Linked DNA regions of Homo sapiens: region 2 is linked to region 1. Evidence: fine-mapped expression QTL. A gene starts in region 1. The other region holds a variant in brackets. All regions are shown on one strand. Distances are from middle to middle. Region 1 holds the start of IL17RA (interleukin 17 receptor A). Region 2 overlaps IL17RA (interleukin 17 receptor A).

Region 1 (8,296 bases):
TTTCAAAAAGCACCTCATGGGATTCTAATACGTAGGCAGAGTTGAGAACCAGGATAGCAATTTCAAATGAGAGTACACATTACCCTGAGGTTACATGAAGACTTTCCAAGGGGCACGCCTTGGAAAGTTTAGGGCACACATCAGTAAACTAGGGCCTATGGCCCAAATCTGTTCTACTGCCTGTTTTTGTACCCTCCGGGGAGCTAAGTTGGTTTTTACAGTTTCAAATGGTCAGGGGAAAAAATCAAAAGGGAAATAATATGTTTGGACAAATGAAAATTATATGAAATTTAAATGTAAGTGTCCATAAATAAAGTTTTATTAGAACACAGACACACTCCTTTGTTTACATATTGTCAATGGCTTCTACAAGGGCAGAGTTGAATAGTTGGGACAGAACTATATGGCTGGCAAAGCCTGAAGTATTTACTATCTGATACTTTCCAGAAAAAAAAAACTTGCTGGCCCTGGCTTGAAGGGAATAGATTTGAAGGGAATGGACCTCCAGAATCTCAACATCCCCATGTCCTCTTCCAGACACTTGCCTGCCAGGAAAGGTACCAGCTGTGAAGATGTCAGGTGTGGGTGGAGGCTCCCTTCCTTCCCCACACTTTTGTTTCCTACTTGTCCTTCTCCCACTTTCAAAAGAAAGGTAGGCCTCTCATCAGTCCTGGGTATTAAGTTTCTAACATGTGAAATTTGGGGGACACATTTTAGAATGTGTAAAAAAGCCCCTGGGGGCCCAGAGCAGTGGCTCACCCCTGTAATCCCAGCACTTTAGGAGGTTGAGGAGGGCAGATCACAAGGTCAGGAGTTCGAGACCAGCCTGGCCAACATGGTGAAACCCCATCTCTACTAAACATACAAAAATTAGCTGGGCGTGGTGGCATGTGCCTGTAATCCCAGCTATTCAGGAGGCTGAGGCAGGAGAATTGCTTGAACCTGGGAGGCGGAGGTTGCCACTACACTCCAGCCTGGGCGACAGAGCAAGACTCCATCTCAGAAAAAAAATAAATAAAATAAAATAAAATTTAAAAAGCCCCTGGGCACTAGACATAGCAACAGTACCAGATACCATTGTGTAATAGGACTCTGATCACAGGATAGGTATATACACATATCGATATACAGAGATAGATAGATAGATAGATAGATAGACATCTATTTTTTTGCAAGTGAGGTAGGTTCCAAATATTGCCTTACTAAAATTGAAGGAGGACCCAATCAAGTTGTCAGTTGCCAAATCAAAAATATTTGACTGGGCACAGTGGTGCAAACCTGTAATCCCAGCTACTTGGGAGGCTGAGATGAGAGGACCTCTTGAGCCCTGGAGTTTGAGTCTAGCCTGGGCCGTTTAGTGAGACCCTATTTAAAAAAAAAAAAAGGTGACAAGATGGCTATGTGATCTTTGCATATGACTGAAAACGGGTTCAAAGAATTGATGAGACAAATATAATTATTTATGTAAGCAATTTTTTAAGGCTTACATCTAAAATATTTTTAGCCTGGGGTGGTAGCTCGTGCCTGTAATCCTAGTACTTTGGGAAGCTGAGGCAGGAGGATGACTTGAGCCCAGGAATTCAAGACCAGCCTGGGTAACATAGTGAGACCCTGTCTCAATGTTTTAAAAAGAAGAAAAATGGTGGCTCACGCCTGTAATCCTAGCACTTTGGGAGGCCGAGGCGGGCGGATCATGAGGTCAGGAGATCAAGACCATCCTGGCTAACACGGTGAAACCCCGTCTCTACTAAAAATACAAAAAATTAGCCGGGCGTGGTGGCAGGTGCCTGTAGTCCCAGCTACTCGGGAGGCTGAGGCAGGAGAATGGACTGAACCCGGGAGGCGGAGCTTGCAGTGAGCCGAGATCACGCCACTGCACTCCGGCCTGGATGACAGAGCAAGACTCCATCTCAAAAAGAAAAAAAAAAAAAGAAGAAAAATAAAATATTTCTTAAATGCTGAATGTTGCTTTGTTCTATGAATAAGCAATATTTGTTCACAGATACATCAACTAATTAGGAATAAAATGAATTTCAAGTAATTCATGTTTAATTACTTATTAACATGTATTATATTTACATTATTTTTTATCAATTATGTACTAATAATGGCAATGATGAAATGAAGATCTCAGTGTCTTGCACTGGGCAGAGGCCTTTCTCATTCTCTGCCACTTGGGCCCCAGCATGGCTTCCCTAAGAGCTAGGAGCTCAGAGGGAGGGGCTGGGCAAGACAGAAGTCAGGATCTTTTTGTAACTTAATCTTGTAAGTGACATCCCATCATTTTTGTCTTCTTCTATTCATATTCTATTGTTAGAACCAAGCCTCTGGGTCCATCCCACACTCCGCGAGGAGGATTCAGAAGGTCGTGACTCCCAGGGGGTGGGATCCTAGAACACATCTTAGAAGCTGCCTACGACAACCGCTGATTTTTAAGTAACAGTTACATCCTCTACATCTATTTAGACTTAGGATGGAGAATTTTAGATGTCATCTTTAAAATGCATGAGAGGATGCAGTTTTCCAAAATTCTTTTAGAAACAGACAATTTGAAGGCCACTGAGCTTCAGGCTTCATTCAGCTGGGTCGTGTCTGCGGGCGGGGCTCATAGAGATGTCGCTGGGGGTCAGCGGGTGCTTCGGGCAGCGAAAAAACCCACCTCTCGAGGGCAGTGGAAAATACAGGGAAAAGCCACTTGAGTGTAGACTCCGTGCGTGTCAAGGCCAGGCAGAGGCGCACTTGATAGGCAAGGAAAAGCGGACGGTGGTGGTCTTGGGAGGAAGAGAGGAGAGGCGAATGGGCAGGAGCGTGTGGATGCACTAGGGCAGGACGGGCTCGAAGCAGGAACCTAGGATAGAGGCAGCGCGGGCCGGCTTGGGAGGGTCCTCCAGGGTCCGGAGAGGAGAGGACGCAGGCTGCACGCGTGCTAAGAAGGAGACTCATGAAATGTGTAATTCGCTGGCGACAGCTTCCGCGGCCGTGGAGTGAGCCTCTGGGAAGTAACGACTCTCTTAGGTGCGGCTGGGACACAGTCTCACAGACCAGGTAAGTTGCCTGCCCTCCAGGAACTCAAGTGTCCCCGAGTCCGAGCCAGGAGGCTGGAAGTGACTGCTGTCCCATCCTCCCTGGAGCCCGGAGCTGTCCTTGTCTTGAGAAAGAGAAAGCAAAGCCAAGGAAAGCAGAGCGAGCAGAACCAGGCAAAGGGGTGGGGACAATAAAATGGGATATGGCCCGCGCTTCCATCTACTCAGGAGGCAGAGGCAGGAGGATCGCTTGAGCCCGGGAGGCCGAAGCTGCAGTGAGCTGCGGTTGCACCACTGCACTCCAGCCTGGGAGACAGAGGGAGACCCTGTCTAAAAATAAAGTAAAATAAAAAACAAAAATAAAAGGGACAGAGACTAAGAAAACGGACTTCCTGAAATCCCAAGTTGGGATTTCACGTCCAGTGACCCACAAGAGAAGCAAGAAGTCTGAACAGGGCCAAGAATCAAGTGAGTGGGGGCGGAGGATTAAAATCGACAGTTGCTGCGGCACGGCCAGGGTGGAGGGTGCATGTGGGGCAGGCGAGGCTCCAGCTGGAGTTGACGCTAGCCCGACGCGGGTGCAACTGGAGGCGCGACGGGCCAGGCCCAGGAGCAGCGGGAGGAGCGCACCTGGGGCGCGCGGGCGGAGGAGGGCCGGGGAGGGACGCCGGAAGGACTGGGTAGGGACGCCCGGAGGACTGAGCGTAGGGCCGAGAGGAGGGGCGCAAGGAGGAACGGGGGGAGGGCCCTGTCTCACCCTAAACCCCTCCCCGTCCCAGACTAAACTCCTCCCCTCGGCCCGGCCCGCCCCTGGGCCCGGGCTGGAAGCCGGAAGCGAGCAAAGTGGAGCCGACTCGAACTCCACCGCGGAAAAGAAAGCCTCAGAACGTTCGTTCGCTGCGTCCCCAGCCGGGGCCGAGCCCTCCGCGACGCCAGCCGGGCCATGGGGGCCGCACGCAGCCCGCCGTCCGCTGTCCCGGGGCCCCTGCTGGGGCTGCTCCTGCTGCTCCTGGGCGTGCTGGCCCCGGGTGGCGCCTCCCTGCGACTCCTGGACCACCGGGCGCTGGTCTGCTCCCAGCCGGTGAGACTCGACGTGGGGAGCGGTAGCCGCCAGGATGCTGCGGACGCGGGGCAAGGTCGCGGAGGGCCGGACGGTCGGGACTACGCGCCCGGGCTGGGGAGGCAGGAAGTCCGCGCCGCGGGCTTAGAGGGGCTCAGAGCCTTGGGCACAGATATCGCGGCGCCTGGGGAGGACCCTCGGAGCGGTGGGAGTTGCGGTGTGGAATACGGGGGGGGTGGGTGGCACATCGCGCGGCGCGTGTTGCACAACCTGGCCCGCCGTCGTGACTGGAGGCGGGAGTGACACCTCCGCCCGGGCCGCGGAGTTCGGGGAAGGAGGGCGCGGCGCTGGGCCAGGCCGGAGGGGCGGCCAGGGCTGATAGAAAGGGGCTGTGGAGAAGGGGCCCGGGGAGGAGCCAGGACGGGTCTGGACCCAGCTCCACGCCTTGCGCCCCTCACGTACCCCGGCGGGGCACGGTCGGCCCTCGGGAGGCCCATCGCGCCCTCGGGAGCTTCCCTCAAGCCGTGCCCTTCATGCCGCCGACGGAGCCGGGCGAGCCCACGTCGTCCGTGCGGAAGGTGGAGTCCCTCACCCGCGGCCCCCAGAGGGACCCCGCTGTCGTAGAGCCACGCGGGGGCCGGAGCGCTGAGACGCGGCACCATGTTTCGGGGAGAGCTCTGCCGAGGGCGGCTGAGGGCCACCTCCCCAGAGGCGCGAAGCCCTGAGGATGGGCAGATGGTTCTTAAGACGGCGCCCTTCCCGCCACTCCCACCCCCGACTACCACCACCTGGGTCTGGGAACCCGGTGAGAGCGCAGTCGGAGGGTCGAACGTTTGTAGCTGTCAAGTCGTAGCCCCGCTGCGCCCACAGGAAGTGACCCACCCGCCTGCCGGGTAGTGGCCTTTCTGTGAGCCAGGACCATCTTAAGGAAAAAAACAAAAAAAGAGCAAAACGCCGTGCCCCTCCACAATATACTCTCCTCTTCCCCGCATCCCCGAGGGGATCTTTCCTCCCCTCCACCTCCACCTCCACCTCCACCGCTGACCCCAAGGAATAATGCTCAGTATCTGAGTCAGAGGATGTAAAACAAAGGGATATTTCTCCTTATGTAGTTTTATGGAGGATTTACCGAAAGAAGGTGGAGGGTGAGTGACTATGTCGCAGAAAAAAAAAAAAAGATGTTTTTATCGTGAATGATGTTGAGAAATGTCCTGTGACTTCCACTATTGGGCAAAGCAGGTCCCTCTGCCCTGCTAGTCCCTCCTGCAGGCTGTGTATGAAGCGTTCTGATATGGAGGGTTGGTGCGCCTGGGTTGACAGCCATTGGTCAGGTGCCTGCAGAGTACAGGGCGCCATACTGGGAACTGGAACTATAAATAAATACTCTGGGGACCCTAATATCCAGAGACCTAACCCATCTACGGGAGGAACAAGGCTTGAAGTTAGGGAACTGTCTAGCAAAGCTGCTTGCACAACTGCTAAGTGTACGGAATTCCAGGAAAAAGAAAAATTGCTTCCAGTTGGGGTGTCCTTCATGGAAAAGGCATTTGGGCAGCCCTGTGGGGGTAGCAGGAGCATTCCAGGTGGTGGAAAGGGCCTGAGCCAAGGTCCTTAAGTGGGACAGGGTACGGTGTGTGGCCGGAATGGAGGGTCTGTGTAATAGGACAGTGAGAAAAGATGCCAGAAGCGGGGATGGGACTCTGCTGTGCGTGGCGTGGGAGCCAAGCTCTGACTTTCACTGCACAGTGAAGCAACTGTAAGTCAGGAGCAGAAGCACGGCCTGGCTCCAGGGAGGGCTGAAGAGAGACACTTGCTGTTCATATTTGTCTGCAGTCTCTCGTTCTCTTCCTTCCTCTCTCTCTCTTCTGTATACACCTGCCTCACAGACAGCTCTTCTCCAGAGATAGACAGCTCTGGGCTCCATTGACTAGTTCTTTTAAAAAGAAAGAAAACACATCCTTCAAATTTCTGTCCCTCACTGGTGTTTTAGTGGATGCAATGTGGTATAGTGAGGGGAGGGAAGGCCACAGAGGTGGCCAGAGGACCTGGATTTGCAGGCAGCATCGCACTTACTGTCTCTGCAGTCGGGCTTTGAGGCTGCCTGGGCCTGGGTTCCCTCATTTCCACAAAGGCAGGACTGGGTGAGCCTTCTCAAAGTAAGTCCATGCCACCTTCCAGAATGTAAGTGTCTGTCCAAAGCCCAGTTCGATTTAGCCTTCCATAACTATCCTCAGACAGGGAGGAGGCTTCTGCACACCTGGCCTGTTCCTAGCTCAGTGCTGGAGCACAGGATGCGGGGGCTATTTGATACATATGTGTTGACTGAACAAAAGAATGCATGAATGAAGGAAAGAACGGTCAGCTCTGCTTGGAAGGTAGTGGCAAGCTGAGACCAACCATAGCAATGGTTCCAGATGCTTGGGGTTAGCACCTCAAAACCCAGATGACTGATTTCCCCACAGAAATCATTACACGAGAAACCATCAATAATTGCATTTCCCTGGGAGTTTCCTTTTGGTTAGCCGTTCTCGCTGCCTAGGCTTCATGCAGGTTTCCCATGACCGCCAGCCTGGAGGAATGCCCATAGGAAAGACAGCAGCAACTTAAGAGTTGGTCAGGGTAAATGTTAACACGTAATTTCATAGACAGGATGTGTATTTCATTACAGAGTCTTTTTTCCTGAGCGTTTGCGGTTTTGACTTGTGGTTGTAGAACAGCTGCTCAGTTTAACCCCTTTATCTTTTGCTTGCCAGAAGCCACTTTCATCATGCCACTCTTCCAGAGGCTACAAAGTTGTGTTCTTTGTGCCAGGCACTGTGCCGGTGGCTCACAAGTATTCCTTCATCCCATACTCAACGACAGCTTACAAGGTTGGCAGGATGAACCTGCTTTTGAGAGGCTGGGTTATTGGCCCAAGGTCGCACAGCTAATGAGTGCTAAGGTGAGATTGAAAGCAGGCTGTGCTTGTAAGTTCAAAGCCCACTTTCTCTGTCAGGCACTCAGTAGTGTTCACTGAGGCACAGAATTGAATACAATCTTCCATTTCTTCCTCTTAACCTTCACCTTGTGGGTAGAGAATAGTGGCCTATTGGAGGTATCCCTTATTTATTTATTTATTTATTTATATTTTGAGAGAGTTTTGCTCTGTCGCCCAGGCTGGAGTGCAGTGGTGCGATCTCAGCTCACTGCAACCTCCGCCTCCCGAGTTCAAGCAATTCTTGTGCCTCAGCCTCCCGAGTCATTGGGATTACAGGCGCCCACCACTACACCCAGCCGATTTTTGTTTTTTGTTTTTTTGACACAGAAAGACACTGTCGCCCAGGCTACAGTGCAGTGGCATGATCTCGGCTCACTGCAACATCCACCTCCCAGGTTTGAGCGATTCTTCTGCCTCAGCCTCCCAAGTAGCTGGGACTAGCAGGCATGCACCATGATGCCCAGCTAATTTTTGTTATTTTTAGTAGAGATGGGGTTTCACCATATTGGCCAGGCTGATCTGGAACTCCTGACCTCAAGTGTTCTGCCCACCTCGGCCTCCCAAAGTGCTGGGATTACAGGTGTGAGCCACCGCACCTGGCCAATTTTTTTATTTTTATTTTTATTTTGAGACAAGGTCTCACTCTGTCATCCAGATTGGAGTGCAGTGGTGCGATCTCAGCTCACTGCAACCTCCACTTCCCAGGCTCAAGCGATTCTCCTGCCTCAACCTCCCAAGTAGCTGGGATTACAGGTGCGCACCACCACTCCCAGCTAATTTTTGTATTTTTAGTAGAGTCGGGGTTTCACCATGTTGGCCAGGCTGGTCTCGAATTCCTGACTTCAAATGATCTACCTGCCTCGGCCTCCCAAAATGCTGGGATTACAAGCGTGAGCCAATGCGCCTGGCCAATTTTTTAATTTTTTTAGTAGAGACAGGGTTTCACCAGGTTGGCCAGACTGGTCTCGAACTCTTTATCTGCCCACCTCGGCCTCCAAAAATGTTGGGATTACAGGTGTGAGCAACCACACCTGGCCCCTTTTGTTATTTAGAGAGACAAGGCAGCAGAGATTAAGATCATGTATTCTGGAGCAAAACTTCGTCATGCAAATGCCAGCTCTGTGGGACCTTGAGCCACTTACCCAACCTCCCTGGGTCTTAGTTTTTTCATCAGTACAATTGGGATAAGGGTGCTTAGCTCATAGGATTGTTGTCAAGATCAAATGAGATATATGT
Region 2 (8,324 bases), 27 kb after region 1:
TAGAAACCCCCTTCCAGTACCCCACTCAGAAGGGCCCCCAATAACAAGGCCTGGGTGCCATTTTTTGAATCACTCAGACAAGGAAAGAAAGGTAAGTATTTTGTGAACAGAGGTCCTCCCTGGAGCAGACCAACAGAGCTTGGTGCCTCTTTTTCTTTTCTTAATTAAAGTATAGGCTAAAGACCAGCTAGGAACGTTGAGAGATTCTTTTTCCCACAAGGCAGCAGACTGATTTTTTTCAGGCAGCCAAAGGTGGAATAGTAACATCTGGGTTTTTCCAACAGGCCTCAGTTGGGTTTCTCAGCTTAGGGAGGGAGCCAAGCTCTGTGTCCTGGTCCAGGCCCCTCCTGGGCTGGCAGGCACAGAGCTGCCCTGGGCCCTGGGGTGAGGGTCAGCATGTGTGGTCTTGTTTCCTTAGATGGCCTGCCTGCGGCTGACCTGATCCCCCCACCGCTGAAGCCCAGGAAGGTCTGGATCATCTACTCAGCCGACCACCCCCTCTACGTGGACGTGGTCCTGAAATTCGCCCAGTTCCTGCTCACCGCCTGCGGCACGGAAGTGGCCCTGGACCTGCTGGAAGAGCAGGCCATCTCGGAGGCAGGAGTCATGACCTGGGTGGGCCGTCAGAAGCAGGAGATGGTGGAGAGCAACTCTAAGATCATCGTCCTGTGCTCCCGCGGCACGCGCGCCAAGTGGCAGGCGCTCCTGGGCCGGGGGGCGCCTGTGCGGCTGCGCTGCGACCACGGAAAGCCCGTGGGGGACCTGTTCACTGCAGCCATGAACATGATCCTCCCGGACTTCAAGAGGCCAGCCTGCTTCGGCACCTACGTAGTCTGCTACTTCAGCGAGGTCAGCTGTGACGGCGACGTCCCCGACCTGTTCGGCGCGGCGCCGCGGTACCCGCTCATGGACAGGTTCGAGGAGGTGTACTTCCGCATCCAGGACCTGGAGATGTTCCAGCCGGGCCGCATGCACCGCGTAGGGGAGCTGTCGGGGGACAACTACCTGCGGAGCCCGGGCGGCAGGCAGCTCCGCGCCGCCCTGGACAGGTTCCGGGACTGGCAGGTCCGCTGTCCCGACTGGTTCGAATGTGAGAACCTCTACTCAGCAGATGACCAGGATGCCCCGTCCCTGGACGAAGAGGTGTTTGAGGAGCCACTGCTGCCTCCGGGAACCGGCATCGTGAAGCGGGCGCCCCTGGTGCGCGAGCCTGGCTCCCAGGCCTGCCTGGCCATAGACCCGCTGGTCGGGGAGGAAGGAGGAGCAGCAGTGGCAAAGCTGGAACCTCACCTGCAGCCCCGGGGTCAGCCAGCGCCGCAGCCCCTCCACACCCTGGTGCTCGCCGCAGAGGAGGGGGCCCTGGTGGCCGCGGTGGAGCCTGGGCCCCTGGCTGACGGTGCCGCAGTCCGGCTGGCACTGGCGGGGGAGGGCGAGGCCTGCCCGCTGCTGGGCAGCCCGGGCGCTGGGCGAAATAGCGTCCTCTTCCTCCCCGTGGACCCCGAGGACTCGCCCCTTGGCAGCAGCACCCCCATGGCGTCTCCTGACCTCCTTCCAGAGGACGTGAGGGAGCACCTCGAAGGCTTGATGCTCTCGCTCTTCGAGCAGAGTCTGAGCTGCCAGGCCCAGGGGGGCTGCAGTAGACCCGCCATGGTCCTCACAGACCCACACACGCCCTACGAGGAGGAGCAGCGGCAGTCAGTGCAGTCTGACCAGGGCTACATCTCCAGGAGCTCCCCGCAGCCCCCCGAGGGACTCACGGAAATGGAGGAAGAGGAGGAAGAGGAGCAGGACCCAGGGAAGCCGGCCCTGCCACTCTCTCCCGAGGACCTGGAGAGCCTGAGGAGCCTCCAGCGGCAGCTGCTTTTCCGCCAGCTGCAGAAGAACTCGGGCTGGGACACGATGGGGTCAGAGTCAGAGGGGCCCAGTGCATGAGGGCGGCTCCCCAGGGACCGCCCAGATCCCAGCTTTGAGAGAGGAGTGTGTGTGCACGTATTCATCTGTGTGTACATGTCTGCATGTGTATATGTTCGTGTGTGAAATGTAGGCTTTAAAATGTAAATGTCTGGATTTTAATCCCAGGCATCCCTCCTAACTTTTCTTTGTGCAGCGGTCTGGTTATCGTCTATCCCCAGGGGAATCCACACAGCCCGCTCCCAGGAGCTAATGGTAGAGCGTCCTTGAGGCTCCATTATTCGTTCATTCAGCATTTATTGTGCACCTACTATGTGGCGGGCATTTGGGATACCAAGATAAATTGCATGCGGCATGGCCCCAGCCATGAAGGAACTTAACCGCTAGTGCCGAGGACACGTTAAACGAACAGGATGGGCCGGGCACGGTGGCTCACGCCTGTAATCCCAGCACACTGGGAGGCCGAGGCAGGTGGATCACTCTGAGGTCAGGAGTTTGAGCCAGCCTGGCCAACATGGTGAAACCCCATCTCCACTAAAAATAGAAAAATTAGCCGGGCATGGTGACACATGCCTGTAGTCCTAGCTACTTGGGAGGCTGAGGCAGGAGAATTGCTTGAATCTGGGAGGCAGAGGTTGCAGTGAGCCGAGATTGTGCCATTGCACTGCAGCCTGGATGACAGAGCGAGACTCTATCTCAAAAAAAAAAAAAAAAAAAGATGGTCACGCGGGATGTAAACGCTGAATGGGCCAGGTGCAGTGGCTCATGCTTGTAATCCCAGCACTTTGGGAAGGCGAGGCAGGTGGATTGCTTGAGCTCAGGAGTTCAAGACCAGCCTGGGCGACATAGTGAGACCTCATCTCTACCTAAATTTTTTTTTAGTCAGTCATGGTGGCACATGCCTGTAGTCCCAGCTACTCGGGAGGCTGATGCCAGATGATCACTTGAGCCCAGGAGGTAGAGGCTGCAGTGAGCTATAATGGTACCATTGCAATCCAGCCTGGGCAGCAGAGTGAGACCCTGTCTCAAAAAAAATAAAAAAGTAGAAAGATGGAGTGGAAGCCTGCCCAGGGTTGTGAGCATGCACGGGAAAGGCACCCAGGTCAGGGGGGATCCCCGAGGAGATGCCTGAGCTGAAGGATTGTGGTTGGGGAAAGCGTAGTCCCAGCAAGGAAGCAGTTTGTGGGTAAGTGCTGGGAGGTGAGTGGAGTGAGCTTGTCAGGGAGCTGCTGGTGGAGCCTGGAGGGGAAGGAGGGAGGCAGTGAGAGAGATCGGGGTGGGGGGTGGGGGGATGTCGCCAGAGCTCAGGGGTGGGGACAGCCTTGTGCGCATCAGTCCTGAGGCCTGGGGCACCTTTCGTCTGATGAGCCTCTGCATGGAGAGAGGCTGAGGGCTAAACACAGCTGGATGTCACCTGAGTTCATTTATAGGAAGAGAGAAATGTCGAGGTGAAACGTAAAAGCATCTGGCAGGAAGGTGAGTCTGAAGCCCTGCACCCGCGTTCCGACTATCAGTGGGGAGCTGTTAGCACGTAGGATTCTTCAGAGCAGCTGGGCTGGAGCTCCCCTGAGCTCAGGAAGCCCCAGGGTGCAAGGGCAAGGAAATGAGGGGTGGTGGGTCAGTGAAGATCTGGGCAGACCTTGTGTGGGGAAGGGGTGCTGCTGTGACTTCAGGGTCTGAGGTCCAAAGACAGCATTTGAAAAGAGGCTCTGAAGCCAGTGTTTGAAGAATTTGTTCCTGAAGTACCTCCTGGGGGTAGGCTAGAGGCTTCTGGCTTCAGGGTCCTGAAGAACACATTGAGGTGCCGTCTGACACTGGAATAGGGTGCCCTTCATTCCTATGCCTGAGTCCTTAACTATATTTCCAACCTCCAGTGAGGAGGAGAAGATTCGGAAATGTGACAGGAGAGCAAACAGGACAGTTTGCATGTGTGTGTGCGCACACATACATGTGCGTGAAAGATTATCAATAAAAGTGCATAAATTTGTTGATCTGGTAAGAGTTTCTAGCAGGAAGGTCGAGCCACTTACTGTAGGTCAAGAAGTTGCTAGTTGCGGAGTTTTTTCTTGCAGTTAGACTTTACCTAGTGGTAGCAGGGCCACCAAAGCTCTGTGTCCCAGATGGTGTATGGCCCATAATCCACCCAACAGCAGCAAAGGACCAGGCAAAGGAGAACAGGAGCAGAAGCCTCCCAGCCACTAGCCTTTTGGGCTCAGTCTCTCCAATAATCCTGGAGAGGGGCTTCGTTGGGTCTGGACACCTACCATGCATTCTGTGACCTTTCCCTAGCTTCCAATAAATAACTGTTTGACGCCCAGAGTACAGGATACCACAATGCACTCTTCCTGCGTAGAGCACATGTTCCCATCTGCTCCCATTCCTCAGGAACCTTGAATTCTAGCTCTGCTGGCCTTTGAGCCCATGCCAGTAAATGTCCTGATGGGCATTGCCTACTATCTCCAGGGCAGCTGCCTTTGTCCTCCTAACAGCTTTATTGGAGTACAGTTCACTTACCATACAATCCACAATTGACCCTGCACAATTTGATGCCGGTTTAGTATAGTCACAGTTCAGCAGCCATCAGCACAGTCAGTCTTAGAGTTTACTACCCCCAAAAGAAATCCAGCCCCCCTTAGTCACCACCCCAACCTCCCCATCCCTAGGCACCCCTAGGCTACTTTGATCTCTGTAGACTTGCCTCTTCTGGACATGACATAGAGAAAGGAGTCATAAATTCTCCAAGGTGTCTGTTTCTTCTTTAATGTCATTCCCTGTTTCTCCTCACATTCCCTCCCCATTTCCTGGGCCCAGTCTCACACTGGTCCTTGCTTACCCTAAATGCTATTAATTCCATCACTCTGAGTATGGTGTTTGCTGTCCGCTGAATGCCAAGAGCTTCAAGAGTGTGTGTAAATAAAGCCACACCTTTATTTTTGTATTATTCTGAACCATGGCTAATAAATTGTTTCACCAAGAAATGTCTCTCTAAGAACAG[G/A]TGCCCTCCACGCTGTGCCCCTCCCACCTCTTCAGCTCGTCTCCTGAGTGTGCAGAGGTGGTTCCGGTTGGGAAAGAAGCAGCGGAGCATCTAACCATGCCTGTGTCCAGGCCGATTATGCACGCAGCCACCAACAAGCTCCCAACTCCCGCGTAGAGTTTCATGACTTTTTCCTGCCTACTATCTTGATCCTAGTTTTTTTTTTGTTTTTTTTTTTTTTAAGGAATAATTACTTTGATTCAAAACCAGTTTCTCTTTTCTGCATAGGAAGGTCCTTGAAGGTGTTTAGGGTCTAAAAAGGGTGGTGTTCGGTCTCTGAAACATCCATTCAGCAGTTTGAGCTGGGATCTCTGAATGCAAGGGTATGATGGATATACTTCTTTCTTGCTTTTGTTGTGTTTTGGTTTTTTGTTTGTTTTTAAGTCAGGGTCTCTCTGTCACCAGGCTGTATTACAGTGGTGCAATCATGGCTCACTGCAGCCTCGACCTCCCAGGCTCAAGCCATCTTTCCACCTCAGCCTGCCAGTGGCTAGAACTACAGGCGTGCACCACTGTGCCCGGCTAATTTGTGTGTATATATTTTGTAGAAATGGGGTTTCACCATGTTGTCCAGGCTGGTCACGAACTCCTGGGCTCAAGCCATCTGCCCGCCTCATCCTCCCAAAGTGCTGGGATTATAGGCCTGAGCCCACCGTGCCTGGCCTTTCCTGTTTATCTTTGAAAATTAAATAGGGCATAAGAGAGAAGAAGATGTACTTACAATGCAGTGGGTGGTTTTAACTCTATAGCCTTTGGGCTCTGTGGTTGGTGCTCCCCTTCCTAAATAAATGAGGTGTATGCAGGGCCCTCTTCTGCCTTAGCGCCCTGCCAGCTGGGACTCCAGCAAGGCCCGGGGCACCTGAGGACAGAGTGAGATGGAGGGCCGCTGCTCCAGCAGCCGGGCCTGCATCCCACAAGTCAACTGTGTCGGACAGAGGATCCTTACAAAGAAGAGGCAGCAGGGTTGGGGGCTGGCCAGCTGCTCGTCCGCCCTAGGTAGCTTGCTCATCTGTAAAGTGGGTGGGGCAGGAGTTCCCACCTCATGGGGTCCTGGCAAGCCTGCAGTATCCCCGAGTGGCACCAGCCTGCTTCTGGGGCAGAGCAGTTTGTGCCCCCTGAGGTACCACTGATCCTCTTTCCCTGCTATTAGGTATTGCTCTCTTCCTCCGGTGTTTGCCTTTTCAGATTATAGAAGTAATATGTGTTCCCATATTTGGCGTCTCTCAGGAGCTCAGGAAGTACTTGGCTGAGTGAACATGTCCATTGTGGAAAAATGGCAACAATATGGATTCCATGGGTATATTTTATAGAAGAATATGAAGAAAAGCAGCTACCCCTAAACCCATTGCACAAGCTGTTCATGTTAATTCTGTACCCGACGCTTTCCCCACGGGGCCTCCCCTCACTCTGAAATGGCATCCAGGTCCATCTTGCCCTCCACCTCTGCATGGCTCTCCATGCCCCATCGCCTCTCCCAGATCCTAGCACTGGGTCCACACTCTCGCCCTGTCCATTTAGGTTGATGAAAGCAGGCAGTCACCCGGGTGGGCCAGTCTTGCCTGTGGGAGGAACATGCAGTCTCCTGTCTCATGGTTTGAAGTGTGCCAGGAAGCCTGGCCCAGCCCACCTCCCCCTGGAGTCCTTCCCAGGAGGAATAACCCCTTAGGTCATTGACTATAAGATGAGTTCGCTCACTGGATCCTTCCTCTCTGATGAGACAGGAAGAAGGTACACAGTGACCAGGTAGGAGGAGGAGAGGGAGTAGAAAGGAGGGATGCGGGTGGCTGGTCCCTGCATTTGCCTGCTTCCCTGCACGGGTGTCCCACTGGCCGCCTCTGCTCACCAGTGTCATGGGATTCTCTCAGAAGATGAAAACAGCCCCTGCTTTTTTGCTAGAATGGCTGAGCTTTCATGGAAAGGAAGCTGGACCCAAGCAACAGCCGACTACCGAAGGTTGCCTGGAGCAGTGCAGATGTGGGAGGAAGAAGGGCCTTGGTGCACACTGGCTTTTCTTCCTGACTGCAATGTGGCATTGTGCCAGCTACCTCCTCTTTCTCGGCCTCAGGAAAATGGAGAGAAAGCAGCCCTGAAGGTGGCTGTGACGAGGGAAGGGGCAGAGGGCCTGACAGTCAACCACGCGCTATATTTTCCTGTTCTTCCTTAGGGCAAGAACTGCATGGCCAGACTCAGGCAAGGCCTAGGTGTGGGCTGGGCATTGCCTACACGTGAAGAGATCACTCCGCGTCCCTACTGCACCTGTCACAAAGTGCCTTCTGATATGCCTGGCAAACCAAAATCGGTGAGCGCCAGCTTGCTTCCCTAGAAGACATTTCTAAATATTCATAACATGCTTGCTCAAATCAATCACCTTATTTTACATCCGCTCCAGGGAGAAATGAAGACATGGTCCTACGTTGTTCTGTAATTATTTTCTATGTAAATTTTGTTCCTTGTTACAATTATATATGTCTTAGGGGAAAGGACCATTTCACATGTGTCACCTCATGTGATTCTCACCACAGCCCTGTGATTGCTCCTGTTTTATAAATAATGACATAGTTCCAGTTGATGGCCAAAGCCACAGCTAACGAGAGGCAGAGAGAGCTCAGGCTCCCAGGAGCTTCCACTCTCAGACCTTGCCTCCCGGGCTGCCCTGAGTGAAACGCCTGCTTAGCATTTGGCACAGCCAGAAGCAGCAAGCTAGGGTCACAACACAGAGAGGGGCTGTGTAATACTGGCTGCCTCTGTGCTAAGAAAAAAAAAAAATCACTGTGTGTTTGTTTATTTTGGTGCAGGCCCAGTGTTCTTGCTTAGACTTAATACTACCCTTCATGTTAAAATAAAACCAAACAAAAACCCATGGCCTTGTTCTTCTTATTCATACGTAAGAATTTGTGCTTCTGGCTGGGGCAAGAGTGATAGAGGAGGGCACAGTATTTAAAAATTAGTTTCTCAAGATGTTCCCCCTTTGGAAAGCTACTCTTTTAGAAAGAAATGGGAAGCCGGGCGTGGTGGCACACTTCTGTAGTCCCAGCTACTTGGGAGGCTGAGGCAGGAGGATTGTTTGAGCCCAGGAGGTTGAGGCTGCAGTGAACTATGATGGCGCCACTGCACTCCAGCCCAGGTGACAGAGTGAGACCCTGTCTCAAAAACAAAGAAAAAGAAAGAAGGAAGGAAAGAAAAGTGAGAGAGAGCCGAGGGTGATGAGAAAAAATCGTTCTCAGGCTGAGTCCATTAGAGCTGAGCTGGCTGTGCCAACAAAGCATGTCAAGACACTCACCAGCTCCAGGCCACAGCTTCACTGCCTCCCTGAAAAACATGCCAACTGCCTAGAAGGGCCAAGGTGTACCCATAATGTTAACACAAACTTATAAAATAA

Evidence for each region. PIP is the estimated chance that this variant, and not a neighbour inherited with it, causes the effect.
Region 2: its variant is fine-mapped to the expression of IL17RA in whole blood (INTERVAL, PIP above 0.99).

What each region holds. Positions count from the first base shown.
Region 1 is chr22:17,081,126-17,089,421 of GRCh38, forward strand. It overlaps IL17RA (interleukin 17 receptor A), which reads left to right and starts at 3,875. Exons shown (of 13, transcript NM_014339.7): 1 at 3,875-4,104. The coding sequence starts at 3,967. RefSeq lists an enhancer at 2,935-3,104 and silencers at 3,658-3,877, 3,898-4,017, 4,268-4,367, 4,408-4,657.
Region 2 is chr22:17,107,889-17,116,212 of GRCh38, forward strand. It overlaps IL17RA (interleukin 17 receptor A), which reads left to right. Exons shown (of 13, transcript NM_014339.7): 13 at 419-7,805. The coding sequence ends at 1,932. Among named protein-coding and RNA genes, the nearest start is that of TMEM121B, 9.3 kb to the right of the region's middle. RefSeq lists an enhancer at 1-268. The variant G/A (reference allele first, on the strand shown) is at 4,907.